Homo sapiens: one gene and its partners. The protein of the gene in region 1 interacts with the protein of each later gene in a pairwise test. Each region holds a gene or a part of one and is shown on either strand. Other genes may lie near its edges. The genes, in order: LNPEP, SLC35E3, UNC93A and CGRRF1.

Region 1 (7,800 bases):
AACTAGTTTTACTCAGAGTTTTGTCTTTTGTAGCCCAAGGAATCTGAACTAGTATATCACTGTTCTTTCCAAATAATAACCTTTCACTTTATTTGGCTGCGTTTTTTTGCTAATGCCTAAGCTCTACTTGAACTTTATTAGATAATTATTCTGCTTTCTTCTGTGCTCTAAACATTTCTTGATTTGATACAACTTCAAACATTACTAATTAATGCAGTGTATGTATGCTACAAATGGGTTACAAAGGCAATGAGATATTGACTCCTTCGGTCCTTAGGGTGGCCGGAAACCTCATGATGGTCAGCCTTGCCCTGGCGGGAAGCAGCTTCCTCCATTTATTCGAGTGCTGAACAAATAACATTTTCAAATGTGTTCAATGAATTAATGTATTGTTGCTTATTTCAAAATAATTAGAAAGATCACTTAGCAGGGCTGAATCCAAATTCCCTATGGAATATCAACTAATTAAGTTGGAATCTTAATTAAATGATTAATGGAATAGACTTCTAATAGATGAAATTAGCTATATTTCTCTCTATTCCATATTCTTTTCGTGGATTTTTGTCATTGACCCCAATTTGCTTGTGGAAACTGGGAGACAACAGAAAACTCTGAAGCACTGGTTTAGAACACAGATGGCCTGAGTTCCAGTCCATGTCTGCTCGTGGATTGTGCGTAAATATTCTACCCTCTCTAGACAGTAGTTCCCTCCTTATCTGTTTCAATGTGAGGCTTGGATTTGCTGATCTATGGAATACCAAGTGTTTTATTTTGATAAAAATATCCCTATATTCATTGATTATCAAGTTTGTCAGTTCTTTAAACAAATGCAATTTGTTTTTCAGGGTGCTTATATTTTTTTCCTGTCATGCTATTTATTATGTATTATAATTAACTCTCCAAATTAATGGTTTTCAAGTGTTAAATGGTAGAGAGCAATGATTCCGAAGACAGTAGATGGGTATAGTAGATAATGTCACATTATCTCCTTTGATAATGAATCGTAACTTCATAATAACTTAAACTGTCATATTCTTAAACTAAAGAGGAAGTTCTGTGTGGGAGGATAGGCGGGTGTTAAAGATAAAAACATAATGGGTTTTGGTTGTGAAATTGTGATATCATATTCCCTCAAAAAGGCTCTATGAAGTCAAATGTAAAACAGTATCCGTTGAAACAAAACAAACTTCATTATTATTCTTTTGCTCCTAGGTAGGCTTCTGAAACATTTCGTTTGTTTACTATTTTTACTTCTTATACAAAACCACGTCTTTTTTTTTTTTTTTTTTTTTTTTGAGATGGAGTCTTGCTCTGTCGCCCAGGCTGGAGTGCAGTGGTGTGATCTTGGTTCATCACAACCTCCGCCTCCCGGGTTCAAGTGATTCTCATGCCTCAGCTTCTCATGCCTCACCCTCCGGAATAGCTGGGATTACAGGTGTGTGCCACCACTCCCGGCTAATTTTATTTTTTGTATTTTTACATGTCTTTAAATGGTCCTTCATGTCTTTGTGTGTGTGAAGGAATGGGAGGGGTGGGAGGCAAGAGGTTGGCAAAGAAATCATTTGTCTCTTTGTCAAAGAAATCTCAAAAAGACATAATGATCCACCTATATTCGCTAGTGCATTTTTTTTTATCACGTCTCTGCAGAGTTGGGATATGTAAAACAAAACACAAGGTAACATGTTTCACACTTAAAAGCATGATAGACTGTAGGTTACAGGTGAAGTGAGGTGAGGTGATTTAACAAGCTGCAGTGTTTTAAATATCTCCTATACTAAGTGGTTTGGTTGCAAAAGGAACTTCAAGGGAACATGACATGACCTAAAATATAGAGAAGAGCGTCTTATTTAAGCAATACAATGTGTGAAGTATGTTAACAAAATCTAGCTCTGCGTGTACTATATAATATCTGAACTGGGATACATCAGCTCCTGTGGTTCACTATTTTTGGTTCTAAAATGTCAGTACTAGGGGCCAGCCTAACGGTTCTGATTACCTTTCACACATTAGGGAGATAGCAGCTCTGAGGTATCATATGATACAGACACCTTCTCTGTACTGATCAAACACATCATTCAGTATGGAGTCATTAACTGGAAGGGTTTGCAGCAGTGGAAGTGAACTCTAAACACCACTATGTCCTTCACTTATTCATGCAAAAATTATTTATTGTATACTTACCCAGGCATTGGGGATACAGCCTTAAAAAAGATTACGACTCTGCCCTCACAAAGCTTGCATTCTTGAGAAGGGAGACTGATAATAAGCAACAAATCCAAAACATTGTTTCAGACAGTGATGAGTGCTGAGAAGGAAATAAAGCAAGGCCAAGTCTTTATAGAGTGTTTGTGGCTATTTTAGATGTATGGTCAGACAAGGGTTCTTTGCAGAGGTGACATTTGAGCCGAGACTTAAATGACAAGATGGAATCAGTAGGCAAAGCACTAAGCAGAAGAAACAGTTCTTGTGCGAGGAGCGAGCAAAAGGAATTATTAACAATGATGGATGGAACTTGGCGACTTCCGGGAACAGCATGAAGGCCTTTGTTACCAAAATATGGTGAGTATGTGCTGATGAGGTCCCAGAGTTAGGCAAGGAGTTTCATTTTTTATTCTAAGTGCAGTTGGTATCCACTGGAAGTTTCAAGTAGAGCGTGCGTTGTGAGGGATGTAATAACAACAGGCAGTTTAAAATACAATATTGTACTTCGATTTGACTTCTTCGAAACCTAGTTTCCAATTCCAGTGCTGGTCAAACAACACCCTGGCCGTCCCTGTTTGAGCAGGCTGTTTGCGCTTGCCGCGGCTTGTTTGTCCCTGGCGCCCCGCTGTTGAAAGCCTCAGAGCGTGTGACAGTTGGCAGGCGCAGTGAGGCGCAGCCCGAGCCAAGTCAATGCAGGGGCCGGGGCTGAGGGAGGGGAAGAGGCAGAGGAGGCGGTGATGGCGCGCTGGGAGGGCGGCGGCCTCTGCAGCGAGGGTGGTGGCGATGCGCATACCGAGAGGATAAGGAAGCGGTTCCCGACGAGCCTCCTCGGGGCTTATGGGGCCCCTGGCGGTTCGGCCTCGGAGGCTAGCGGGGCTGCCCGATTTGGCACTGGAAACAATGGTGGCTCGGGGCTGGAGGCAATGGCGCGAGTGCTGGGGGGCAGGGGCGACTAGGGGAGTTTCGGTTTCTCGGGCCTAGCGCCGCGGAGCCTTGCTGCGGGCCCCAGTGGTAGCACCCCCGGGAACCGCAGGTGTTGATTTAAGGCTCGGAACAGGCGGGCCTTCTGCCCACATCCTGCGGCGCCCGCGACCCGGGCCGGGCGATCCGGCGCCGGGTTTTGTTATCCGCCCGCACCTAGAGGCCGCAAGGCAGCCGCCAGCCCCGGGACTGGACCCCAGGGCGCCCTCGGCCCTGCGAGGTCCCCGCCCTCTCTTCCGTCTCCTCCTCACCGCCCTCCTGAGGCACTCTGATGCGGGCGGGCATCTCTGCCGAAAACACCTACAGCGCCCGCTCCCTCGGTCCTTCGAGCAGTGATCCCTCCGCGGCCAACCTCCCCAGGGAAACCAGCGATTCGCGGTTCAGATAGCGACCTTCGCCCGCAGGTTCCTGCTCTGCCTTCAGACTTCGGCTTCAGTGGCACCTGCTCAGCGAGGCCTCGTCTAACCAAGCCATCCGAATTAACTACCCACTCACTCGCCATCACATCACCCCGATTTAATTCGCAGCGGGGCACTGACTTTACACTCGTGTGTCTTCTGTGTTTATTTATGGTCTGTTTCTGGAATGTCCGCTCCTGGGACTGGGACCATGATTTTCTGGCGCAGTGCGGGTGTCTCGGCGTCCGGGATCGGGCGGGTCGCAGTAGGGCTCCACATTTGTTGAGTGACTGAACACCGTTCCCGGCCGGGGAGAGCGCCGCAGCCGGGTCCACTTCAGGTAGGGGCTGGGCTTTCCCGGCCCCGCCTAGGCCCCGCCCCCAGCGCGAACCCGCTCCCACCTCGCCTGTCCACGGAGCAGCAGGGGGTTTGACTGTGCTTTTCCCTCTTGCTTCCCTCGCTCTTTCTGCAGCTGCCACGAAAACCCGGAACGGCGGAGCGGCGCCGCCCCTCGCGGCACCTCCCTGGCAGCCCTTGGAGGCCGCGCTGGGCATGCTCAGTCAGCTGGGCCGCCTCAGCTCTCGGAGTAGGAAGCTCGGGCGCTCCGGCTGTAAGGAGCCGCGGCGGGGGGAAAATGGAGCCCTTCACCAATGGTGAGTGGGCTGCCGAGGCGCCGGGACCCGGGCTCTCCGGAGCCCTGAGGGTCGTGGGCAGTCGTGACACGCGGGGTCGGGCTGCAGCCGTCTCCCCCAACACCGCGGGCTTCCCACGAGGGCTGAGGGAGGCAGGGAGAGGGGATCTGGGGGAGGCAGGGAGGTTCGGGGGGCGGGCGGCGGCCAGTGCGGGACCCGGGGCTGGCTTGAAGGTCAGCGCCGCCGCCGCTCGCCCGGGGTGCGGCCGGTGGGCAAACAGCAAAGTTTGGGCTGCTGTGCGCAGAGGAGTGGGCAGTGGGAAAGTTGGCAGCTCAGGTTTGCCCCCGGAGGAGGCGGTGTCGGCCCGACTCTCCTGTAGGAGCGTTAAGTTGTGGCAGCTGCCGAGCCCAACTTTTGTGGGGCGCCAGGAGCTGTCCCCCTGCCCTTCAGTGAGCTGCCGGCGTGACTTTTCCTAATAGGGCGGGGTGGGGGTGGGAGGCTTGGCAGGTTAATGTTGTGGAAGGAAGGGAAACTTCAGGAAAGGCTTGCTCACCTCGCTCGGTGCCGCGGAGGTGCCTGGCCACAGTGCCACCCTCCTGACCCTGCCGAGGTACTCGGCAGGGCCACCACGCATCCCCTCACTGGCTGCAGATCACATCAGTTTTTCAGTCAAAGACTTGTTAATGTCAAGGGTCCGTCACGGTGGTGATACCACTGTGTGACAGGAAGCGAGAGTCAACGCAGGGAGCCTGCACCCTGCAAACAGCCACAGCCCTTCACTGAACGGGGAGCATAAATCCCACCCTAGTTAGAACCATGGCTTTTGTGCGGACCAGAAGTGCCAGAGCCACAATATAGGGGTGAGATGTCTTACCGTTTTGCGGTGTTGAGTGTGTGGATTCCCTTTTAAGATAGAAAGTAGGAAAACTGCCAGTAAGGGAGACGACTCACTAAAAGAGGATTCAGTCTCTGGTTGACATGTTTTGCTGAGTGTGGTTGGTTACTTCAGGTACAGTATCACATTAATAGGGGCCACAGTCTATATCCCTGTTTAGTTTGTTAGTTACCACTCAAGAGCAGACAGATATTGTCCACTTTATCCCAAATCCCAGCCAGACTTTGTTGTATGCTGTGCTTCATTCATGGGGCTGTGAACTACTGATTATATTCTCCCTATTCCTAATGTAGAATGCTTTATTCTACTGCCATCTTTCTGTCTGCACTGTTTAATTAGGCTTACTGATAACAACTTTAATTCTGAATTTTCTTTCTCATTCAGGTTCTATTTGTAATTACTAAGACTTAAAGAATAGTCTGGTGAAGTTACTCGAAGAATTAAGGAAGGTTTGAGCTAAAATGAACTAGAGACCATCTAGTACTTTAGTGTAAAATATGTTTAATACAAGTCGTTAAGTCCTTGTAAGTGACTATTCCAATGTTCATTCTTTGTTTTTGGAAGAATGCTTGGAGTTACCATGTTTTTAAATGTGAAATTTCATCTAAATTAAAAAAAAAATCTCTGTGATGAGGCTGACTCACCCATTTGGTCAAGATTAGTGCTAGCTGATTTGCTGAACCTTTGCCTACAGAATTAAAGTACTTTCTCAAGTTTTAAAATTGGTGTCTTTTCTCTTATAGAATATGCTTCTAGATTGCTTCTAGATGTGGGTATTTGCAAACTGTCACATTTGGGAGGACAATGGAAAAATCCCACAGAAGAGAACAAAAAAAGAAGCAATGCTTCAACTTTCATGTAGGAAATTGGATTTCTGATTCTTTCCTATCTTTCAGAGTTGATGCTGGAGACAGCTTGGCAGTGCATAATTTTGGTTAATGTAGCAATCACTCCTTGGAGCCTTATTTAGCATCCTTTTACAAGGAAAACAGAAACGACAATATCTACAGTCAATAAGAAATTAAATGTTAGCAATTTGAAGTGCTTTTCAGGTTTAAGATGGACAGGGTATTTATTTGAAAACTTTTGAAGGATTGCTGTAGAATTTTCTAGTGTTTTCAAATGACATGGTACAGTAGACAGTTATATACTTCATCCTTTTGAGTACAAAAAATAATGCATGTATAATGCTCCCATTGGTCTGGGTGTGATGATGCAGAGTATTTCATTATCCATAGAATTTATGATTGCAAGATTTATCAAGCCTGGTATTGGATTTTGTTACACGTTCATCCTCTTTTAATGGAATCTTTCCCACTTACACTTTTTCATGTATCCCTATATATGTAGAGAGGTGTATGAGCTTAACAAAAAACAGTTTCAGTAATTTAGGACCACATATCTTTTAGTTAAAATCTTGTCAGTGGTTCCATCTACTGACCTATGCATTTGTAAAGGAAGTGAATTTAGCTTATATCTTGTCACTCTAGCCTTCAATACTCATCTATTCCAGTACGTTTTTTTTGTAGTTTCCCTGTTTTCTGTCCAAAGTTGCCACTGGTATGACCTATTTTTGTTGGGCCCTGCTCTCTACCTGTTGATAATTGGTTCATTTGATGAATATCCTATGTTAACCTGTTCAGGTAACATACTTCTGCAACCCATTTAAAATGCATATCCCTGGAAAGGGCTTATAAGGATGGATCTTAGTGCTAGGAATTCCCATTTAGCTCAGGATCTATTTTTGGCTTTGTCCTTGGGAGGGATTGCTATTATGTTGAAGTCTGGACATCTGGTCTGGGTTTGGATCTTTGGTGGCTTTTTTTATGAAGAGAGATGTGCTGGACCAGTACTTAAGATTGTTTTGGCAATAATGATTATGTCTTATTAGGCAGGTAGAGGTAAAACTGTTAAGTAATAGTGATTTGTATATTACAAAAAAAAAAAAAAATTGAAGGCAACTATCTGCTTTTTTGGTTAGAGATATTAGATTAAATAATTCTTTGATGTTTATCCAGATTTTTGTCTTCATTTGCATGCAGGGTTGGTATATTTTGTAAAAACTTAAATTCATCTTAAGAAATGCAAATGCTAAGGTTCACCCTCAGAATCTGATTAAGGAGGTCTGATTATATATGAAATACATACTAGAAAGTATGTATACTTTCTTTTTTTTTTTTTTTGAGACACAGTCTCACTCTGTTGCCCAGGCTGGAGTGCAGTGGCACAATCTCAGCTCACTGCAACCTCTGCCTCCCGGGTTCAAGTGATCCTCCTGCCTCAGCCTCCCGAGTAGCTGGGATTACAGGCGCCCGCCACCATGCCCAAATAATTTTTGTATTTCTAGTAGAAATGAGGTTTCACCATGTTGGCCAGGTGAACTCCTGACCTCAAGTGATCCGCTCACCTTAGCCTCCCAAAGTACTGGGATTACAGGCATGAGCCACCGCGCCCAGCTGAAAGTATATATACTTTCTAGTTTGTGATATATTCTAAAGTATATCTAAAGGTTGGTATTTTGGCATTTTGAGGTCCCAGAACTGAAAACATAAATAGTTTTTTTTTTCATATGAATGTAGGTCCTATGAATCACTTTTATTACCGCAGTGTGGTGCATAATCAAACAAGGAGGACTTAGTTGTCTTAAAAAATTATTTTTGCTTTCATGTTCAGATTGGTATCCAGTTGAAAG
Region 2 (7,850 bases), on another chromosome or scaffold:
TGAGACTAATTTATAAAGAAAAGAGGTTTATTTTGGCTTATGGTTCTGCAGACAGTACAAGAAGCATTAGTGCTGGCATCTACTTCTAGTGAGGGCCTCAGGAAGCTTACAGTCATGGTGGAAGGTGAAGGGGGAGCAGGCATGTCACATGGCGAGAGAGGGAGCAAGAGAGAGAGGGGAGGAAATGCCAGTCTCTTTTAAACAGCTAGCTCTCATGAGAACTAATAGAGCAAGAACTCACTCATTACCCTGGGGAGGGCACCAAGCCATTCATGAGGGATCCAGCCCCATAACCCAAACACCTTCTACTAGGCCTCACTTCCAACATTGGTGATCAAATTTCAACATGAGATTTGGAGGGAACAAACATCCAAACTATATTACCATTGTTATTATTTTTACTGATGAGGAAACCGAGAGATAAAGAGTTAGTAACTGGCTCGCAATCCCACAGCTAATAAGCAGAAACACAATTTGGATACATGCCTTCTGGGTCCAAAGTCTGTGTTCTCCAGTGCTCCGCTCTGCTTCCCCTAAGTAGACCAGTAGTTATTTCAAATTTATATATTTTACCATATACACTTTTTTTCTAAAGTAGAGGTCATTGGACCATCTATCAGATAATATTTCCACTTTGCAAAAGTCCTAGCCATCCTGGTTATCTGGTTTCAAACCATTGCAGCCTAGAGACCTTATACTACAAGGAGAGAGGATTTTTTTCGTAGCCTTCTAACAGGTTTTAAAATGAGGACAGCAGCAGAAAAGCCATTAAAAAAAAAAAAAAAAAAAGGCAAAGAAACCAAGACCACAGCAGGCTGAGGCCATTTAGTGTGAAGGAAAGTCATCTTCATTCCTTAATGTCCCTAGGAGGCATCCTTGACTCAAAGTAGAGGATTGTGTCAACTCAACTTTTTTTTTTTTTTTCCATATGAAGCCAGCATTACCCTAATACCAAAACCAGGAAAGGACACAACCAAAAAAGAAAACTAAAGACCAATATCCTTGATGAACATAGATGCTAAAATCCCTAACAAAATACTAGCTAACTGAATCTAATGACGTATCAAAAAGATAATCCACCATGATCAAGTGGGTTTCATACCAGGGATGTGGGGATGGTTTAACATACAAAAGTCAATAAATGTGATACACTATGTAAACAGAATTAAAAACAAAAATCACATGATCGGCCAGGCGCAGTGGCTCACCCCTGTAATCCCAGCAATTTGGGAGGTCAGGGCGGGCGGATCACGAAGTCAGGAGATTGAGACTAGCCGAGACCATCCTGGCTAACACGGTGAAACCCCGTCTCTACTAAAAATACAAAAACAAAATTAGCTGGGCGTGGTGGCTGGTGCCTGTAGTCTCAGCTACTTGGGACGCTGAGGCGGGAGAATGGCGTGAACCCGCGAGGCGGAGCTTGCAGTGAGCCGAGATCGTGCCACTGCACTCCAGCCTGGGCGACAGAGTGAGACTCCAAATAAATAAATAAATAAATAATGGCATGATCATCTCAATAGATGCAGAAAGAGCATTTGACAAAATTCAGCATCGCTTTATGATTAAAACCCTTGGCAAAATCGGCATACAAAGGACATACCTTAATTTAATAAAAGCCGTCTATGACAGACCCTCAGCCAACATAATACTGAATGGGGAAAAGTTGAAAGCATTCCCTCTGAGAACTGGAACAAGACAAGGATGCCCACTCTTACCACTCCTCTTCAACGTGGAACTAGCTTCTTTATATTCTTCAAAGTCCGTAACAAAGACCCTAACAAAGTAGAGTAATTGTGTTTTTAATGATGTGCCAAGTATCAAGTTTAAGTTTTCTTTGGAACTTAAACTTCTTAATAGTTTATATCATGAATATCATTTTATCTAAATTCAGAAACAAAATGATTCTATAACTTTTTGGATAAAATTATGGGATAGATTTGAACAGAACTTTGTATGTGTATATAGTGGTCCAACCCATTTGTCCCCCTGTGCCCAGCCAAGTTATCTATAAAAAGGAATAATATTTTTACAACTACTTTGTGGATGTATGTGAAAATTAAATAAGTGAATACATGTAAAACAGAACAATTATTGGTGCATAATAAGTGTTATGTAAGTGTAAGCAGTGATCATCATGATTTTTATTATGTCCTCAAGTAGTTTCTAAGCTCTTTGAGGGCAGGAACTTTGTACATACTGCGTTCCTCAGAAGGCCTGGCCTAACTTTGTAGATATCCAATGAATGCTTATTGAGTTAAATAAGAATAAAAATGAGGCCAGGTGCAGTGGCTCAGGCCTGTAATCCCAGCACTTTGGGAGGCCAAGGGGTGCAGATCACCTGAGGTCAGGAGTTCGAGACCAGCCTGGCCAACATGGTGAAACCCCATCTCTACCAAAAAATTCAAAAAAAATTAGGTGGGTGTGGTGGCATGGGCCTGTAATCCCAGCTACTGGGGAGGCTGAGGCAGAAGAATCACTTGAACCTGGGAGGCAGAAGTTGCAGTGAGTCAAGATTGCACCACTGCACTCTAGACTAGGCGACAGAATGAGACTCCATCTCAAAAAAAAAAAAAGAATAAAAATGAGCAATTTAATAGAAAAAGATCTCGGCCGGGTGCAGTGGCTCACGCCTGTAATCCCAGCACTTTGGGAGGCCGAGGTGGGTGGATCATGAGGTCAGGAGTTCAAGACCAGCCTGGCCAAGATGGTGAAACCCATCTCTACTAAAAATACAAAAAATTAGCCGGGCGCAGTGGCAGGCGCCTGTAGTCCCAGCTACTCAGGAGAATGAGGAAGGAGAATCATTTGAATCTGGAGGGTGGAGGTTGCAGTGAGCCCAGATCGTGCCACTGCACTCCAGCCTGGGTGACAGAGTGAAACTCCGTCTCAAAAAAAAAAGAAAAAGATCTCGAAGGAGGTATGCCGAGATGTTAATGTGTGGGTGGTTGGGATTATAAGAATTCCTTATATTCTTTTTGCTTTTCTTTATTGTCTGATGTACAATAATAATAATGCATATGTATACTTTTTCTTTAGATTAATAAGAAAAATGAACCTGGAAATTCACAATCACAGAAAGGATGTTATTGCAGTATTTTTCGTTGATTCTTGTGGAAAAAATTACGTTTTTTCTAAACACGGTTCATTCTGCTTTTTTACTTGCAATTCTTACTGTCTCCCAACCCCAAATTCTCTTTCTTTTTTTTTTTTTTTTTTTTTTTTTTTTTTGAGATGGAGTCTTACTCTGTCGCCCAGGCTGGAGTGCAGTGGCGTGATCTCGGCTCACTGCAAGCTCCACCTTCCAGGTTCATGCCATTCTCCTGCCTCAGCCTCCCAAGTAGCTGGGACTACAGGCGCCCGCCACTGCGCCCAGCAAATTTTTTATATTTTTAGTAGAGATGGGGTTTCACCATGGTCTCGATCTCCTGACCTCGTGATCCGCCCGCCTTGGCCTCCCAAAGTGCTGGGATTACAGGCGTGAGCCACCGCGCCCGGCCCTCTCTTTCTAATCTTATTTATTAATGGTTGATATTTGAATTTTTTAAAATGCCGAATGAAATGTATCTTTGCTTGATGATTATGATTGCAGTGCTTTGCATTAATGGTTCTTTTGGTTTATTTGTAGCTTATGGTGCTGCTATCTGGAGTAATAGCTTTCATGGTGAACTTATCAATTTATTGGATCATTGGGAACACTTCACCTGTCACGTATCCTTTTCATATAACTTAGAAATGCATCGTCTTTTATATTTTCCAAAACTTTTACATTCATTACCTTATTTGAATCTCACACTAACTATTGCATGGCCTAAATTGAGTAGAGAGAGTTATTTTTAGCCTTTTACTGTATCTTTACCCACTAAAGGATTTTAAAGAAATATGAACTGAAGGGGCAAGTGTGGTGGCTCACACCTGTAATCCCAACACTTCAGGAGGCCGAGGCGGGTGAATCGCTTAAGGCCAGGAGTTCAAGACCAGCCTGGATAACATGGTGAAACCCCGTCTCTACAAAAAATATATAAATTAGCTGGGTAAGGTGGTGCACGCCTGTAATCCCAGCTACTCAGGAGGCTGAGGCACAAGAATTGCTTGAACTGGGGAGTCGGAGGTTACAGTGAGCTGAGATTGTGCCACTGTACTCCAGCCTGGGCAACAGAGCAAGACTCTGTCTTAAAAAAAAAAAAAAAGAAATATGAACTGAGGAAGTGGGTTAGCTTTTTGTGTCATGAATGTTTCTGAATTTTCTTATGTAATAGGTGACCTTTTCCCTTACAAAAATTAACTCAGAGTACCATTTCTTACAGACAGTGAGATTAAATATTTTTTGAATGAATAGTGAGGTGGAGGTTTGGATTTTCAAACAATTTTCAGGTATTTCTAGTAACAAAGTAGAGGAATGGTTAACAAATAACAAAAGATAATTTCAGGCCACTGGCATCTGGCTATGGAGTATGTGTTTGTACTTATTTGGATATGGGTGTGCCTGTTTTTCTCAATATTATTTCAAGTCAAGAAATGAAGTCATTGGCCGGGTGCCATGGCTCACGCCTGTAATTCCAACACTGTGGGAGGCCGAGGCAGGAGGATCGCTTGAGCCCAAGAGTTCGAGACCAGCCTGGGCAACATAGGGAGAACCTATCTCTACCAAAAAAAGAAAAAATAGAAATGAAGTTATATGTTAAAGGTCAAATTCAACTGTCCATTTGTACCATTCTGCTTGTCATCCTGTTTCTCTTCACATTTCACTCTGCCCCCACCCTTAGGCAAATGCAACAAATGAATTTCCCCAGGAAGTAAACAAGTAGGATATTTGCCAACTATCAATAAAAAACAACAACGATAAGTTTTTTAGAAAACCAATACTTAACAAATATTTATTTTGTGTCAGACACTGTTAGAAACATTTTGTATGTATTAGTCCATTTAATTCTCACAGCAGCTCTGTGAGGTAAAGTCTGTCATTTTTGTTTATAGAAAAAATAGAGGCACAGAGAGGTTAACCAACTCACTTAAGGCACACAGCTGACAAATGGGATGTCCAGATTTGAACCCATGCAGTCTAGTCCCCAAATTTGTACATCATACTACCCAATCAAGGCATCCAAATATGTGCTCTGATTTAAAACATTAATTTATTCAATAAGTATTTATTGAATACCCACTAAACCAGTCATTGATATAAAAATATTTATATACTGAACATCTACTGTGTGCCAGGCACAGGGGATACAGTAATGAACCACATAGACAAAAGTCTTTGCTCTCACAGGCTTGAATTCTGGTGAGGAAGACTAGAAATAGAAAACAATTAAATATTTATATACAGTGTTGGATAGTGTTAACTGCCAAGGAGTAAAAATAAAGCGGGGAAGAGAATGTGAAATGTCATAGACAGCATTGAAGTTCTAGGCAGGGCTAGTCAGGAAGGCATCAGTGGGAAGACGACATTTGAGTAAAGACCTGAAGGAAATGCAGTTGCTCCATGCAGATCAGGAGGAAAGAACATTCCAGGCAGAGGCAACAGCAGGTGCGAGGCCGTAAAAAAACCAAGGAAGCCTGTGTGGTTAGAGCAGGTTGAGCAAAGGAGGGAATGTGGTAGGCTGAGAAGTAACACAGAACTGAATTGAGTAGGGCGTTTATGTAAGGACTATTAAACTGAGTAAGATGGGAAGCCATTAGCATTTTGAGCAGAGAAGTAACATGATTTTACATACATTCTAATAGAAGCACTCAGTGGGCCGGGCACAATGGCACACCTGTCATTCCAACACTTTGGAAGGCCAAGACAGGAGGATCCCTTGAGCCCAGGAGTTCGAGACCAGTCTGGGCAACATAGTAAGACCCTGTCTCTACAAAAAGTTTTTTAAAATAAAATAAATCATAGAATCACTCAGGACTCCTGTGTTGAGAATAGACTTAAGAAGGATTTCTCAACCTCTGGGCTGTTGACTTTTTGGGCTAGACGGTTCTTAGTGCAGGCCTGTTTAGTACACTGTAGGATGTTTTCAGCAGGCCTGGGCTCTACCACCAGATGCCAGTAGCATACATACCCTTTGCCCAGTTGTGACAACCAAAAATGCCTCCAAAGATTGCCCACAAAGCAGAATCACCCATGGTTGAGAACTACTGGACTGAAAGAGGCACAGGAAACTCAGGAGACTGCTACGATATTCTAATTTAGAAGTAATAGTGGCTACCAGTATGATAGCAGTGGATATAGTAAGAAGTGATTGGATTCTGGAAATATTTCTAAGAAGAGCCAACAGGTTTTGCTGCCGAGTTGGATGTGGAGAAAGAGAAAACAAGGCTGATTTACATGGTTTTTGACCTGAGCACCTGGTAGAATGGAGTTGCCATCAACTAAGATAGGATACCCAGAAGGAGGTTTGGGGCTGGGGAGGAAGATAAGGTGCTCAGTTCGGGGAGTATTTTGTTGTTGTTGTTTTTGAGACAGGGTCTTGCTCTGTCACCCAGGCTGGAGTGAAGTGGCGCGATCATGGTTCACTGCAACCTCAAACTGTTGGGCTCAAGCATTCTTCCCACCTCAGCCTTCCAAAGTGCTGGGATTACAGGTGTGAGCCACCGTGCCCAGCCAGGTGCTCAGTTTTGGATAAACAAGTCAGGGTTCAAAGGTGACGTCTCAGCAGGAGGCATCACAGGGAGTGAGCAGTATGAAGCTGTGGTTTAAAGTGATGAGACTAGTTGAGATTACCAAGCAGACAAGTAGAAGAAAATAAGTCCAAAGACTGAGTGTTGGGTTTGAGTCCAGTATTTGGAATTCAGAGAGATGAGAAACTAGGTGGAGGATGAGAAGGAGCAGTCAGAGGTGGAAGGAAGGAGGAGACTGGCACAGAACCAGAGGAAGGAGGAGGAGGCGGGGTCGGTGTCTGTGTCAGATGCCGCTGGCAGGCCAAGTTCAAGGAGACTGGTCACCATTGAGGGACTGAGTGAGGTGGAGGGCACTGGGTTTGACCAGAACATTCTGCCTGGAGTAAAGTGGGTTGGGGTTGGGGTGACAGCCTGCCTGGAGTAAAGTGCAGAACTGGAAATACCACATGTAGACTGCTCTTTTGTTGTTGCTTTTACAAAAGGATTCATAAATAGTTTCTTTAAATTTGACTTCCTTCTCGTATAAATATACTTAAAAGAGAAGCTGAGGAGTAAAGAAATTTAAAGTGTTAGAGCCAGTGCACATGAAGATAGCTCATAATTGAAAATAAAACATTATGACTATTGCCAACAACCTTGGGAAGATCCTCTGTGTCTCAGGAAGTCACCTTCATGGGATCAAGCCACCATATGCCCCTGGTGACGCAGCCTGTGCTCTCCTGAGGCACTGCTGCTGCCCAGCGGGAACCTCCAGGCTGCTTAGGTGGGCTTGGAGGTCAGACAGGTCCAGGTGTGAACACTGAGCTCTGCCACTCTCTGTGGGCCTGACTAGTGTGGGAACTCTCAGGGTCTCACTCTGATCACTTATGAAATGTATGAAGTGGAGGAAGTACGATCTATGATGTTGGGTGGTTGTATTTGAGAGAATGTGTCAAGCACCAAGCAGGTGTTTATGATACATAAGTACTGCTGTTGGTAATGTTATTATAGCTAGCACATATGGTGCTTACTATATGCTAGAAGCTTTGTGTATATTAACTTATTTAATCCTTACAATAACCGTGGGAGGTAAACCCCTTTTATATAGTGAGGAAACTAATGCACAGAGTGGTGGCTGTTTCTAGTGTTGTAGTTAGGAAAAGCACATAGGCAAACATCATACATCTGAAGAACAAGAGAGTACTCATTTATATAGAAAAAATAGTTATATTTAAATATAAGTAATTGTGTGTGTGTGTGTG
Region 3 (8,376 bases), on another chromosome or scaffold:
CACACTGCACATACAGGCCTTACCGCCCGCTGAGCGGGAAGAAGCGGCACAGTGGCTTCTCAAGGGACCACTGAAAAGAGGCGGTCATTGCATCGTAGCTGGAAACAAACGGGGAAAATGCCTCAGTCTCACCTGCTGACACTCGCTGAGATTTTAGAAGCCACGCGCTGCAATAGCGGCTGGAGCGAAGGGACTGCAAATAGGTCACGTCACCCAGGATGGCATTATCTCGCTTGGGGACAAAGTTCAAATTGTATGGATGTTTGTGGTTGTGAGAGCAAAGGCACGAAATTATCTTTGGAGATTTTTGGGCGTAATTTCCCATCACTGTATCTTTGTCTGTATAGACAAAAATAATTGATAGAAAAAATACCTAGAAAATTCAAGCATCAGCCGGGTGCTGTGGCTCAAGTCTTTAATCCCAGCACTTTGGGAGGCCGAGGCGGGCGGATTGCCTGAGCTCAAGAGTTCGTGACCAGCCTGGGCAACACGGTGAAACCCCGTCTCTACTGAAATACAAAAAATTAGCTGGGTGTGGTGGCGGGTGCCTGTAATCCCAGCTACTCGGGAGGCTGAGGCAGGAGAATTGCTTGAACCCGGGAGGCGGATGTTGCAGTGAGCCAAGATCGCGCCACTGCACTCCAGCCTGGGCGACAGAGCAAGACTCTGTCTCAAAAAAAAAAAAAAAAAAAAAAAAAAATTCCAGCATAATCAGCACTTTCTGCCCCTCATCCAGGCTTAGAAGACATGTAAGTGGTTGGCTCTCGGCTGTACAATCACAGCCCGGCTTCCTCGGCTATCCAATCACAGCCGTATTTGGCTCTCAGCTGTCCAATCATAGCCATACTTGGCCCTCAGCTGTCCAATCACAGCCCGGCTTCCTCCACTGCTCGCTGCACTCAGCTGGATCTTTTCCACCCAAAGTGCCACTTGCTCCAGTTTGCAGGGTTCATAGAAACGGCTGCTGAGCTGCAGACCTGGTGATGCTTGGGTCCAGCCGAGCTGCTCTCTCCAAAGCTGGACACTGCTCTGCCGCCCGTGTGGAGATGGGGTGTGGATAGCGTGTGTACCACCCCATACTCCCTATCGTCCCACCTGCTCTAGTTTTGGGATCGCACTTCTTCTCTCCATGGGAATTTCAGTTCTCTATTTTGCTTAGTTGTTCACTGTTTGGTTCCTCCACTAGAACTAGGCTTCTGTGAGAATGGAGACCCCTGGCCCTTTTATCAGTGTGGTACCCCAGTACATTAGGAAGGATGCCTGGCCCAGGGTAGACGCTCAATAAATAGTGTGGACGACTGTAGAAGTGGGTGCTGTATCCCAGGCTGCAGAGGGCTCATGGGAAAGGAAAAGGACCTACGAACTTGGAAAATAAAAAGGGTGTGTGTGTGTGTGCATGTGTGTGCATATGTGTGTGTGTGCATGCGTGTGTGCATGCGTGTGTGTGTGTGTGTGCACTGTGCACATGAGTGTGTTCTGAACCAGGACCTACACGATCCCCCTGACTATGAGAGTGGAACAGGCCAGATTCTCCGCACTCGGGCTCACCTAGCGTTGCCGCCCTGACAGGGAGAGTGGAAGACGGTGATCAATCACAGAGCTGCTGCTCTCCTTCATTCTGGTGCAAAATGAGGGTGCCTTAGCCCAATCAGATGCTGTTGTTCAGGGACCCTGCAGGCCCTTGACGGTCTTGGCTGGGTGGTCAGGCCACTCACATGTCCCAGGTGGAGACGTGGGCTGAGAGAAAGACCCAGAATCCCAGGACATCACCAGCAGCTTTAACCACACCGTGGAAGCTGGGAGGATTCACAAATGGTGTGAGGATGGGAGTATTTCCAGCCAGGCTTGCCACACGATGGGTCTCTGCCCTCTCTGATAAGTAATGGAAATTAGCTAAGGGTCTTGGCTGAGGGCCTGACATAGCCAACTGGCCCCAAAGCTTTTTCTCTGATTGGCTCTCTGGGTTCTCCTTGGCCGAGGAAGAAGCCAGAGCCCCGAATGCCCGCTCAGCTCAGGAGGTGGCCTGTCTAGCCAGGGGAAGGCGGAGTGGTCAGCCCCCGCCAAGATTTAAGATGCTTTGGAACATTTGCTAAGAGAAAATACTCTCTCAAGCCATGGTTGTGTTAGCACAAATTGTTCTTCCTTACACACACACACACACACACACACACACACACACACACAGCATGAGTACATTTATTTCCAAAGTGTGAAATTCCCTAAAGTAGCCAAGAACTCATTCTACTCCCTATAGATACCTTCTTCATCTTTATGTGGATAAAAAGATGTAAGATACATTTGAGTTTATTTGGTATTGCTTTTATTAACAAAGATTTCAGATGTAAATGTCAAGAAAATTGATATTAATTTGCTTACATGAGTACATTCCTTAAAAAAGCAAACCATTGGGTAGACTTCCCTTAAATTAATCTTTAGATTCTTGGCAGGAAGTTTGGTGATTTACAAGGTGATTCTACAGCATGAAGAACGCATGGCGCCTGTGGTGAACTCAGCCGTAGCAAAACGGTGCCATCTAGTGGCTGGTGAAGTCTCGGTTTTCCGGAACACGCGTGCTCTGAGCTTTGTATCACCCAGGGCATCTGTCATTTTAACGTCCAATGAGTGACCTGCAGATTCGAGCAGATCTACAGAACCACCTCTTTTCTCAAGCTGATAGAGCCCAGATGTTAATTTTAAGGACTGAAGTGGCTATTGACACCTTTTAAATCCTTTACACGTACCCGTCTTTGGCCTTTGGCAGGTCAGCCCTGGGCCAGGCCATGGCTCCAGTGCACACACAGAGCTCATAACGCCAAAACCAGCTCTGAGAGCCAAGCCAGCTCTGGGTTTCTAGAGGTTGCACTCTCTTCCCTCAGGCAACTCCATGTCTGCAGGAATGTGTAGGCTGCGGGAAGGCAGCCTCAGGGGTCGGGTAAGATAAGAGTGTCCCTTTGTTTATGACGAGACCACTGGGGGACCATGTCTAAGACCTGCCCTGGTCACAGGAACACTGAGGGGTGCTGGGAATTATCTCCTCTAAGAGAAGCATTTTATTCTGCTACAGAGAAAAGGCAGAGAGTGAAATATACTGTTCATTTAAAAAAAATCCCTTTTAACATAGATAAAGGGGAGGAACTGGGAGGAAAAGAGAGAAAAAGCAGACGTAACTGAAGCCATGGTTTCAGAAATTCAATCCTAGTAGAAGTGCTGGAGGGACAGGGAGGGTGTGGCTGGGAAGGATGGAAACAGACCAGGTTTATTTGTGCACAAAGGGAAGCTCCTTAGAAGGCATAGGCTGGTGAAGGGGAGGGGAAGAGCAGCCTCTGGAAACAGCCCCCAGAGCCAGAGAGCGAGTCCTAGAGGATGGGGCTGGTGAGTTGAAGCAACCAAGGGAGAAAGACCAGCAGACAGTGCAATAAAACATCAGGAAGGTCCTCTAATATCAAAATACAGGTCATCCATGGGAACTAATGAGAGGCCAGAACTGAAGTAAACTAAAGTGTTGCCAAAAAATAAAAATAAGGTCCAAGTTGATTGATCGATAACACGGTTAGTATGAAGAAGTCCACATTATGCTAATTTCTTTACATATTATTCTAATTTGTATTGTCTCTGAAAGTCAAAATATCATCTTAGTCAATTAACATTTATTGGTGATAACATTTATTGGTGAAGTTGAACCATATATGTATCTTGAAGTTAACATTTTTGCTATATATCGGGTGCTGTTCTAGGGGCTTTCAAAATTATCCAAGTCTTGAACTTTTGCAACCCTCCTTTTTAAAGAGGAAACAGGTTCGGTGACTCAGTGACCCACCTGAGATCACCTAGCTAACAAATTACAGGATTAGGGTGTGAACCCGTGGAGCTCATCTGTTTCCATGCTCAGAATCCCTTTGCTAGACTGCGTGGCTCTTATGTCTATGTAAGCATGATAGTCCATGTTTAGTTAATATAAAAAGCTATTGTTTTCATAAAACTTTCATTTTCACTGAAATACATTAAGTGACAAGAACTTTACCCCATTTATCATTGGCCCTGATCTTCTGATGGTCTGGCAAGCTTCCCTGAGTAGTGTTGCCAGGATGCTAGACTTACCTGCGAGATTTGCCTTATAGATCTAATCTAGACAGAAATGGCTGACTTCACAGAACTTTGGAAACAATCTGCAGACATCAAGTTTTACTTATAATTGAATAAAAATAATTTTTCTTGCTTATTAGCTATGACATTTGTGGTAAGTTGCTTAAAGCTCCAGACTTACCCCGTCTAATACAGTTGTCTCTAGCCACATGTGGTTAAATTTTAATTGTAATTAACTAAAAGGAGATGCAGTTGTGAACTCATTTTATCAGTTGCACTTGCCACATTTCAGAACTCAATAGTCACATGTGGCGAGTGGCTACCATACTGGACAACACTGCCCCAGACCAAAATACCAAATCATTTAACTTTTCTGAAGCTGTTTCCTGTCTTATAATGGGTCTAAGATTTCTAATGATCATTAGCATAGCACTATTGTTGGTAACATGAAATAATGCATGAAATTCTTTGCATATTGTAAAGTACTATACTCATGTAAGTTGTTTTTTCTTTTAATAATTGCTGTACTGTGTTGTGAAACTGTACAGTCTTTGCAATACTAAGACTTTGGCCCCAGGATCTTACAATCACGTTAGCTCTTTTTCAGAAGTTGAACTATGTGTCTTGAAGTTGACATTTATGCTTTGTTCTTTAAGACTGAAGTCCTCATTCTGCACCACTGACAACTTCTGACAGTTTCTCTTACTGTGGAAGGTTCTATTCTATATACACATAAAAAGTGAAACATATCACTTTACCATCTGGACCATGTCTATTAGAATTTAATAGGAAAAAAGCGCAATTAACTAGAAGCTGGTAAGAGTAATGATCTTTTGCCCCATACAAAGTGGACATTGTGGATCACAGAGAAGGTAAATGAGTAACAGAGCTCCCGTATGCTTCATGGGGTCAGTGATAACCAAGTTCATTAACGAGTGACAGTCTTAATGACTAACACACCTCTAACATTTCACCTCTAGCTCAGATGAGAGAGAGAATGGGACTTCTTGGTACTGATTGTTTTTCCCATGCCTCAATTGGTTTCTTTTAGGGAGCTACAAATTTACGTGTTCACTGGTGATTGATCTTTTCATCCAGCACAATGGACAGAAGTCTAAGGAACGTCCTTGTGGTTTCCTTTGGGTTCCTGCTTCTCTTTACAGCCTATGGAGGTCTGCAGAGCCTGCAGGTATGTGTGTCCGGTCATCAAATTACCTGAACTTCTTGGCCTCCAAGAATCCCTGTGGTCACAGACAATAATGAATTGGAAATTTGAAAAATCTAATTCACCTGGTGTTTCTTTTTCACTCTGTACCAAATCCTCTAAAACAAACAGTGGTTCTCAGATGCAGTCCTACAGTGAGCAGTTCCCACTCACGTCTCAATAGGATTGCACAACAGCGAGGTGCACGTTGCTCTTGGACAAGGACAGCAGGGGTCTTGGGACTGTGATTTGTTGGGACATTCTTTGCCTTTGGGTGGTTAAAAGGAGACACAGGAAAAGTCATTGTGAATTCTATGATTGATTGGATGCCCTTGGCTTTGTGGTTAGGGGCAGCCATGTGAATTTATCAAATGTCACTAGACCTTATACATTCCAAGCCTACTCTAAGCTAAACTGTGAACTTTGACAACATGATCTCTCTATACTTTGAACTCCTTATGGCATGCTCTCCTCCATAGTTCCGTGAGCCCATGAAAAAGCCAAACGGCATTCTCCGAAAGGCTGCAGCATTCATCATGTGCACCTAGACATAGACCTGACACATTTTCCCAAGCTGGTTACATTTCAAGTCTGATCTTTACCTGGATTCCAGTCTGAATTCCAGGGAATTCCAAGGGCTGGTCAGGAAGCAGGGCTATTGTTACTCCCCCGGCTTATTCATTGCCACAGTGTTGTACCCTGTGGCCTGGTGTGGTCACATAAAACATTTCAGAGCTTCTGATGACAAATTAGTGTGGTCTTACATGGTTCGTCAATGAAGAATAAGAATTGGGCACCTACTGTGTGCATAGTATGGAACCAGAAAAGCACACCTGGGAACTCAGAATCCGAGGTTTCTCCTCTCACTGTTGTTGTGCAAACACTTGGGACTCCTGGGTTGCCAAGGAAGCTGGAATTCAGTCCTGAATTCTCAAGTAATGTTTCCTTTTGCTGAACTCCTATCTGGTTCTATTTCTGATCAGGCTTACAGAGGATAAAATGGCAGCCAACAGTGACTCTCAAAGTCAAGTGGAAGGGAACACAGTCTCTTTTCTTGCCGCAATGGTTCATTACTTTTGGAGTCCCTGCTTTGCCCAGAACTTTGTGTTGTTGTCACAGAATGCTGGTGTGAGTGAAATGCCTGTTGGGTTGAGGTGAGTGCATGTTGAATGTGGTTGGTGTGCACTTTCTGGAAGGAGGGAGTCTCAAGGATGTGGACTGGTCAGTAGCCCTTTCTCTTTAGAAAGCTCACCTGCCTGCAGAAGGAGACCCTGCTGTCCTCCTGGCACAGCAGCTCCCCTGGGGTCAGCATTCCTAGGAACCGACAGCTCCCCTGGGGTCAGCATTCCTAGGAACCAGTTCTGGTGGATCCGCTGTGGCTCAGCCACTGTCTGAAAATTGGCCTCTGGACTTGGAAGCCAGAGGAAGGGGGCTGGAGGGGGCTGGGAGCTGCCAGGGGTCCCTCCTCTCAGGCTGTGACGGCAGGACCCAAGGCTGTGGGCAAATGCGGGCAGACAACCCTTTGCCTCTTCAGCCCCAGTTTGGGGGTGCCTCATTGGGGAATCACTCATGGTGGCATCTGGATGAGCTCCGCAGCTGTGAGCAGCTGCCTGGGGAGTAGATTGTCCCACGCCCCGCCAGCACTTCCCACTCCTCCTGGGCTGGTGGAAGTGGGAGCTGCTGTCTCATGATGTCAGCCCTTCCTTCTCAAAAGACTGGAGATGCAGGGGAGCCAGACCTCCCTCTCTGCAGGGCCCCAGGACTGTGGAAGGGTCCCCTCCACTCCAGCTCCACCCTGGTTCGAGGCCCCACCCGGGCCTATTGTCGGCAGCTGACCTTGAGCATGCGGACGTGCTTTAACCCTCTAACTGGGACAGCTGTCTCTGCTACTCAGGACTGGCATGGGCAACACAGAGTGTTCAGATAGAAGTGACTCAGGATTGGTTTTGCCCCAGCATGCTGAGGAGCCGAGCCCACCTCTCTCCAAGAACCCCAAGGCTACTATGGGGTTGGCTTCGCTCTCAGGCCCCAACAAGGCACATGCATCCCCAGGCTCCCTCCTCAGAGCTCAGCAGCCCCAGTGAGAAGACAGGGCCTCATTCCAGAGAGTTCTCCTGAGTCCTCACCCTGGTCTGGACTAGGTCCCCTCGTCCAAGGACAAAGGACGCTCTTTTGTGGCACCTCCCCCTGTAGCCACCACCTCCTTTCACCCTTTCTGGCTGCAGGCCTCCAAGTTCTCATTCAGCTCTCAACTTGGAGGTCACCTCCTTCTCCCCACCCTGCCCTGGAGCTGAGGTCTGGATGGGGCACCCAGCACCCTCGTGGCGGTGTGTGCCTGCCCGGGTTGTCTCCACCAGTGGTGGCGGCCTGCAGTTTCCAGGATACGAGGGCCACGTCCCTGGTCCATTCTCAAACCTTAGACAGTGACGGGCACTCGGAGGCGGGCGATGGATATTTGGTGAAGGAAGAAATCATTCATGTGCACTCAGCTGCTTCATATCCTTCGGGCCTCCCCATGGGCTGAAGGACCCCTTACATTCCCTGGGAGCACGCAGGCTCCTCACAGATGAGTTCTGGCAGAGTCTCCAGCCCCATCCTGTCACACTGTCCTGTTCTCAGCTGAGATTCAGGCAGGTGTCCACAGAGGCGTGAGCGGCTCTCACAGCCATCCAGCCCCGGCGCAAGCACTCACAGGGGTGCCGGGCCTTCACTCCCTGATGTTTAGACACACTAACTGCTTTATTCCGAATTCACCTGCACTTTTCTCCCACCAGCTTCAGAGGAGGCTCCCAGGGCAGCAAGCCTGTGGCTGGCGGTTCCTGGGAGCTGTGGCGGCCTCCAGCCTGGGGGACACTGAGGACCTGCTGGTGCCTCATCCCGCTGTGTCCATCCTGTGCTCTGACAGGGCTGGCTTTGTTCCCACAGAGCAGCCTGTACAGCGAGGAGGGCCTGGGTGTCACAGCGCTCAGCACCCTCTATGGAGGCATGCTCCTGTCCTCCATGTTCCTCCCACCGCTCCTCATCGAGAGGCTGGGCTGCAAGGGGACCATCATCCTCTCCATGTGTGGCTACGTGGCCTTCTCCGTGGG
Region 4 (7,850 bases), on another chromosome or scaffold:
CATGGGTGTGGTATCTCTCAAACTGTCCTTACCCAGACTATCTATAACAAGCAAATAAAGCGGAGTGTAAGAGACAGCCTTGCAAAAAAGTGAAAAAAATAAGGACTGTAGAAAATATGCTAAGCCACTAAAAAGGGAGAAATGATGGGGCGGAAAAGCCACAAACCTTCTTGAGGAAGGATCCCTGTGAGAGAAGCAGTAATAAAACAAGGAGACCATTCATGAGGATAATAAAGCCAGAGTATTGGGAGATGAAAGTTTTAGGTTGTAGAGAATGGAGGTTCACAAACGCCTCCAAACATGCCATGTACATTGTGTTTTTTTCTAACCCTTTTGCTTTAATGTTAGCTCTTACCAGAGTGAATAAGCTAAAATATAAGGAAGCTATTTACAAAAAGCAGAATTCCTGAATCAAATTAATTCAACTCAACTTATATACACTGAGTATCTAACTTTCAATTTCATTAAAGACTCTATATTGGAGACATGGAAACGCAAATCCAAATATATCATTACATAATAACAACAACAAAAAAATCCCAGCAACCCACCCCTAGTAAACAGAACTAAATGACTCAGATTAAAATCGATTCTCTGGTTTTCTTTTTTTTTTAATTATAAATTTTAAAATATGGCCAGGGCGCAGTGGCTCACACTTGTAATCCCAGCACTTTGGGAGGCCGAGGTGGGCAGATCATGAGGTCAAGAGATTGAGACCATCCTGGATAACACGGTGAAACCCTGTCTCTACTAAAAATACAAAAAATTAGCTGGGCATGGTGGCATGCACCTGTAGTCCCTGCTACTCAGGAGGCTAAGGGAGGAGAATTGCTTGAACCTGGGAGGCAGACGTTGCAGTGAGCCAAGATTGCACCACTGCACTCTAGCCTGGGCGACAGAGCGAGACTCCGTCTCAAAAAAAAAAAAAAAAAAAAAAATCTTAAATATAAATAAAAAGCATGTGTGTTTTTTTGTTTTTGTTTTTTGAGACAGGGTCTCACTCTGTTGCCCAGGCTGGAGTGCAGTGGCATGATCTCAGCTCACTGCAGCCTCAACCTCCCAGACTTAAGCAATCCTCCAGCCTAAGCCTCCTGAGTAGCCGGCACTAACAGGCATGTGCCACCACGCCCAGCTAATTTTTGTATTTTTAGTAGAGATGAGGTTTCGCCATGTTGGCCAGGCTGGTCTTGAACTCCTGGACTCAAGGATCCGCCCGTCTCAGCCTCCCAGAGTACTGGGATTACAAGCATGAGCCACCACGTGCAGCCTCTGGTTTATTTTCAAGTTAAATCAGGTCTCTAGATTATTCACCCTCTTCTGCTATATGTCAGGCAGTTTGGGTACAGTGGTGAAAAAAAGATTTTTAAACTATCTACACATCAAATGAAATAACTTTTTTAAATGTCACAAATATTGTTACAATATTATTTTAATGTTCTGTATAGACATCTTTAATGATACCCACTTTTCCACAGTTTAAACAAATGAATTTTACTCTGTTGAGTATAACTCCTATCAAAATCCTTCTATTTCCCCATAGGAGAAAGATAATAAATGATATGCATCGGTATTTTAAAAATTAAAATATTTCAGTATTCATGCTGTACATCCACACATTTAAATAATTTTTCATGACTTCAGTAATACTACTGTTGGTTAGCAACTAGTGTGCAGGCATAGCTAAGAGGGCTACTTACTGGCTATCTTTTCATTTGCCTCAAACATTCGCAAGGCTGGTTCTATTTGTGACTATTTCTGCCTGAAAAGCAGATTGATGGATTTCCTCACACTTTCTGCCTCACAAGTGCCCTGTGTTTTGCTCACAATGTATCAGCTCTTCTTAGTTTTTCAGTGTATTTTCAGACCTGTGGAACTGTACTGCAGGAAGGAAGGCCTTGCAGCTGGTAGGTTTTTCATTGCGGGTCCTGCTCAAGAGCCAGATGTGACATTGTAGCAGGTTCTAGCCTATGGCCACAGAGGTGGGAGGTTATTGAACCACCACTATGCTGTACACTTGATTTTTTATTTTATTTTTTGAGACAGAGTCTCACTCTGTCACCCAGGCTGAAGTGAAGTGGTGTGATCACGGCTTACTGCAACCTCGACCTCCTGGACTCAAGCAATCCTCCCACCTCATCCTCCCGAGTAGCTGGTAGCTGGGTGTACACTTTAATCAGGCATGCACAACCTACTATCTTTTAAACAAATTAGTTTTATCTGTGTCATATCTCAAAATTTGGTTTTCTCAAGTAAAAAATATCAGAATGAACTGTTATCTATTATAGGGAAGGAGCGGGGAGGGGAGTGGCCGAGATCCTAGTTTCCATCAATTCATAGGGTAATAGTATTTACAGCTAAAGAGGATGAATAAGAAATTTTGTACTTTTTGGGGCCAAGAACAGTGGGTCACGCCTGTAATCCCAGCACTTTGTGAGCCTGGGGCAGAAGGACTGCTTGAGGCCAGAAGTTTGAGACCAGCCTGGGCAACACAGCAAGACCCCATCTCCACAAAAAACATTTTTTTTTTTATTTAGCCAGGCACGGTCATGCACACCTGTAGTCCCAGCTACTCAGGGGGCTGAGGCAGGAGGACCACTTGAGCCCAGGGTATTGGGGCTGCAGTGAGGTATGATCATACTACTGCATTCCAGCCTGGGTGGAAGAGCAAGAGCCTGTCTCGAAAAAAAAAAAAAAAAACATATATTTTTCCTTACAAATCAAGATTTACTTAAGCCTGATGATCTATTTGACTAAGTAAACTGATTTCTGACCAGTTATTAGATTCTGAGAGTTAGAGGCAGGAAAGATGAATAGACAAGAATGGTCCATAGACGCAAGGGAGCAGGACGTTGCAAATGAAGGTCAACTCTGTAAAATACTAGAGAGAGAGCATTAACTCAGCCCTGAAAGGCTCCCACTGGATTTGATGACTGCTGGGGGTCAAAAGTGCAGGGCAGAAGTCGTAATTAGTGACCTCAGAGAAAGCCATTTCAGTAAAGGGATACAGGGAAAAGTCAGACTGCACTGCACTGAGGAGTAAAAATGAAGCAGGCTAAGAGAAGGAAAATGCAAACAGCTTCTAAGAAGCTGGCTGTGAGGGGAAGAAGAGAAATACGGCAGTAGCTAGACTAGGATGAAAAGCAGAGAAAGATCTGGCTTATTTGTTTTCAAGAAACCAGAAATGTAAGCAAGTATAGAAGGGACAGGGTCTCGGCCCAGAAAAAAAGCTACAGAACTGTATCTAGGACTGCCTACTCTTTATTTCTATTGAACTGTCACGAAAGAATTTCAAAGTCCAAAAGTTCAAAATTGAATTCATTGCCTTTCTTTGGAAACTTGCTATTCTTTCTGTACTCCTCATTTTTCTAACAGGATCTGGCTATGGAGGACCCATAGGAAGAACCTGAGTCTTCTTAGACTCCTCTGTTACCTGTCCCATCCTATGCTTTAGCCATAACTACTGTTTCTTTAATGTATCACTCCATTTCTCATCCACGAAGTAAACACCTATCTTCCAAGATTCTACTCAAAAAAAAAAAAGGAGGAAGGAATAAAGAAAAAAAAAGTAAGAGAGACTCAGCATATTCTTTTTTATGAAGGCTTTCCTGAATATGCCTCTTCACCTTAACAAATTTAAGCATCTCTTTCTTTACAATTCTAATGGTTCCTATATGGTCCTGCAGACAACTTATTTTTCCAAGCAAGTACAAAAGCAAACAACTGCCATCTATTACCTACCATCTACAAAAGAACATGTTATATCAAAATAATTTATACCAAAATACCATAGTTTCAGATTAAATGACAATCATTCTGGCCGCGCGCAGTGGCTCACACCTGTAATCCCAGCACTTTGGGAGGCTGAGGTGGGTGGATCATCTGAGGTCAGGAGTTTGAGACCAGCCTGGTCAACATGGTGAAACACTGTCTCTACTAAAAAAACAAAAATTAGCCAGGTGTGGTGGTGCATGCCTGTAATCTCAGTGACTTGGGAGGCTGAGGCAGGAGAATCGCTTGAACCCGGGAGGTGGAGGCTGTAGTGAGCCGAGATTGTGCCATTGCACTCCAGCCTGGATGACAGAGTAAGAATCTGTCTCAAAAAAAATAAAAAGGCAATTGTTCCTCAAAAGGTTAGCAACCTTACGTTAACTGTATTTAGACATAACACATCATTTCTCACTTTACTACAGACCAATAAAAATGGCATAGTGTCCTAAGAGACTTCACTATTAACACCTGTAATACTTCATTCTACTCCTTTGTATACACATCTACCTCTGTTTACTAGGTGATAAATTCTTCAGGAGTAAAGTTTGTAACTTCTTAATCTTTGTATCTGTCATATACAGTACAGCACCTGGAACAACATAGTTGCCCAACAAATGTTTGTTAAAAGTCTAATGAAGGGAAAGAAATAGAGAAAGAAAATAAAAGGGCTAAAAAAAGAGGGCAAACAATGAGAGAAAATCTTTGGAAAACAGCCACCAACTTGTAATTGAAGCTGAAGATGGATTAGTGATCTCTAAGCCAAAAGGATTCTTGACTTGTCTCATTTGCTTTTTGAAAACTCTTGTGCTGAACTGGGTCTCTTCTGAATTTCTCAGAATTACTGGAACATCCCAACCAAACCTAAAAAAAGGTAAAAAATAAAATATTATTTTAACAAATGTTGAAACTTTATGTTATGTGTAAAATCTGTTGTGCTTCATTAGCGATTCCTTTTAGCATTAAGTGTCAGAAAGAGGTTAAATTTCTCAATTTACGTTATTTTAGAGATCCCACAGAACTGCAAAACAGTTGGCCCTCTGTATGAACCAAGTGCACATCAAAAATATTTGGGGACGAGGGGGAAGAATAAAAAATAACAATAAAAAATACTACAAATTCAAAACCAATACAGTATAACAACTGTTTACACAGCATTTACATTAGGTGTAAGTAATCTAGAGATAATTTGAAGTGTACAGAAGGACGTGTGTAGGTTATATGCAAATACTATGTAATGTTATATAAGGGACTTAAGCATCCTAGAATATGGGGGGTGGGTATCCTAGAATCAATCCCCCTCAGATATCAAGGAAGGACTAGGTATTGTTCAGCTGGCTGAATCAACACATTCTTGAAAACAAAGAGTTCTATTGTTAATACTGTTGATAACACCAAAGGAGTATGGAGATTATAGATAAATTATACTTAATTTAACAGCAAACACATGATGAACTTATTGAATTTTTTTAAATGTGAAAAAGAAATATATATTCAAGAGGCAGACTATTGGCCGGGTGTGGTGGCTCATGCCTGTAATCCCAGCACTTTGGGAGGCCAAGGTGGGAGGATCACTTGAGGTCAGGAGTTCGAGACCAGCCTGGCCAAAACATAGTGAAACCCTGTCATTAATAAAAATACAAAAATTAGCTGGGCATGGTGGCGTGGACCTGTAGACCCAGCTACTTGGGAAGCTGAGGCAGGAGACTGGCTTGAACCCGGAAGGCAGAGGTTGCAGTGAGCCGAGATCGTGCCACTGGACTCCAGCCTGGGCAACAGAGCAAGATTTCGTCTCTCAAAAGAAAAAAGAGGCAGACTAATATGATTTATGGGACAACGGAACTTTTTTTTTTTTTGAGATGGAGTTTCATTCTTGTTGCCCAGGCTGGAGTGCAATGGCGTGATCTTGGCTCACTATAACCTCTGCCTCCCGGGTTAAAGCAATTCTCCTGCCTCAGCCTCCCAAGTAGCTGAGATTACAGGCATGTGCCACCATGCCCAGGTAATTTTTGTATTTTTAGTAGAGACGGGGTTTCACCATATTGACCAGGCTGGTCTCGAACTCCTGACCTTAGGTGATCCGCCCACCTCAGCCTCCCAAAGTGCTGGGATTACAGGCGTGAGCCACCATACCCAGCCAGGACAATGGAACTTTTAAAACACCAACTATAGCTCTTCATTTATATATCTTCTACTTTTAAATTTCATGTAAAAATGTAAACTCTGACAATGCCCATGGAACAGAATTAAAAGGAAAATGAAAGGGGCTAAATTCAATTCCCAATAAAATTAAAAAACAGCTACTTTACTCAATTTACATAAAATAATCTAAAATTAATACACACCAGTTAAACTAGGAAATTTTAGTTAAAGACGGCACAGTTAGGAGCCTATTTGATGCACTCCCTTCTCTCCAAATACATATCAGTGATAGATAAAAAAGAAAAAGAAAAATTAAAAAGACCCCACAGATACCTGAGTCCCATATGCTTTAAGAAAAAAGAAAGACTCCGCTGAAATGAGTAAACAAACTGTGGTATATTTAAAGAAAAGAATAGAAGTATTCAGCAGTGAAAAGGAACAACTTATTACTACAATCAAATGGATAAATTTCAGAAACATCGTGCTATGCAAAAGAAGCCTTACACAAAAGAATAAATGCTGTATCCTTCTCTAATATAAAATTCTAGAGCAGGCACAACAAATTTATGGTAGAAATAAAAATGAGAACAATGGTTGCTTCCGGAAGTACAGGAGTAGGACTGACTGGGAAAGAGCATAAGAAAATTGACGGTAACGTTCAGTATCTTGACAGAGGCTTAAGCTGTATAGATGATGTGTTTGATAACACTTGGTAAATGGTACACTTAAGATTTGTACATCTTGGCCGGGTGCGGTGGCTCACACCTGTAATCCCAGCACTTTGGGAGGCCGAGGCGGATGGATCATGAGGCCAGGAGATCGAGACCGTCCTGATTAACACAGTGAAATCCCGTCTCTACTAAAAATACACACACACACACATACACACACACACACAAATTAGCCAGGCGTGGTGGTGGGCGCCTGCAGTCCCAGCTACTCGGGAGGCTGAAGCAGGAGAATGGCGTGAACCTGGGAGTCTGAGCTTGCAGTGAGCCAAGATCGCGCCATTGCACTCCAGCCTGAGCGACAGAGCAAGACTCCATCTCAAAAAAAATAAATAAATAAAAAATAAGATTTGTGTATCTTATATGTAAATGTTACTTCAAAAAACTATAAACGAAAACAAACACTGAACTCTAATCAGTAATATGTAATGTTTTAGAACTTACAGGTGAAGAGTACAACTCACTTTGAAGGGCATCGTGAAATAAGATAGACCAATGTATGGATAAAAGAGTGGATTAATGTGGACAGATATGTAATAGAGAAATTACAGTAAAATGCTGATTGTAGAATCTAAGTGATGGGCAGATGTGTGTTCACTGTGTAATTCTTTCTAGTATTCTGTATGTTTGAAAATTTTTATAATAAAATGCTGGGAACAAATACCTTTATGGATCCAAAAAAAGCAAAGAAACAAAGTAATGAGTAAGGCTATGCCATGGTTTCATGGTTCTCAGTCTGGCAGCAGACAGTGGCAACCAAGCCTTCATGTACTAAGGAGACCAGCATAGGCTGTCTTCTCCAGACAAGGGCCAGAGCCAGGTTTATAACTTGGAACCAGGAGCTGGATTAGGTCAATACAAAAATACGCAGAACTGTCGTTATAAGACTTGGTCCTAGGCTGGGTGCACTGGCTCCTGCCCATAATCCCAGAACTTTGGGAGGCTGAGGAGGGAGGAATGCTTGAGCCCAGGAGTTCGACACCAGTCTGGGCAACAATAGCGAGACCCCATCTCTACAAAAAAAAAAAAAAAAAAATGGAAAATTAGTTGGGCATGGTGGTGTACACCTGTGGTCCCAGCTACTTAAGAGGCTGAGGTGGAAGGATCGCTTGAGCCTGGGAGGTCAAGACTGCAGTAAGCAGAGATTGTGCCACTGCACTCCAGCCTGGGCAACACAGAGAGATTCTGTCTCAAAAAAAAAAGGCCAGGCACAGT

Evidence for each region.
Region 2: the proteins of LNPEP (region 1) and SLC35E3 interact in binary tests that used the Homo sapiens proteins (3 or more experiments, as listed by UniProt).
Region 3: the proteins of LNPEP (region 1) and UNC93A interact in binary tests that used the Homo sapiens proteins (3 or more experiments, as listed by UniProt).
Region 4: the proteins of LNPEP (region 1) and CGRRF1 interact in binary tests that used the Homo sapiens proteins (3 or more experiments, as listed by UniProt).

The regions. Positions count from the first base shown.
Region 1 is NC_000005.10:96,931,941-96,939,740, forward strand, and holds the start of LNPEP (leucyl-cystinyl aminopeptidase), read left to right. Parts: upstream 1-4,139; 5' UTR 4,140-4,215; coding exon 4,216-4,234; intron 4,235-7,800. Other genes in the region: uncharacterized protein LOC124901030, read right to left, coding at 3,431-4,135. UniProt on the Homo sapiens protein: Release of an N-terminal amino acid, cleaves before cysteine, leucine as well as other amino acids. Degrades peptide hormones such as oxytocin, vasopressin and angiotensin III, and plays a role in maintaining homeostasis during pregnancy.
Region 2 is NC_000012.12:68,755,532-68,763,381, forward strand, and holds part of SLC35E3 (solute carrier family 35 member E3), read left to right. Parts: intron 1-3,625; coding exon 3,626-3,708; intron 3,709-4,508; coding exon of another isoform or gene 4,509-4,554; exon of another isoform or gene 4,555-4,860; intron 4,861-7,850. UniProt on the Homo sapiens protein: Putative transporter.
Region 3 is NC_000006.12:167,286,305-167,294,680, forward strand, and holds the start of UNC93A (protein unc-93 homolog A), read left to right. Parts: upstream 1-5,010; 5' UTR 5,011-5,185; coding exon 5,186-5,272; intron 5,273-8,212; coding exon 8,213-8,376.
Region 4 is NC_000014.9:54,519,233-54,527,082, reverse strand, and holds part of CGRRF1 (cell growth regulator with RING finger domain protein 1), read right to left. Parts: intron 4,630-7,850; coding exon 4,490-4,629; intron 1-4,489. UniProt on the Homo sapiens protein: Able to inhibit growth in several cell lines.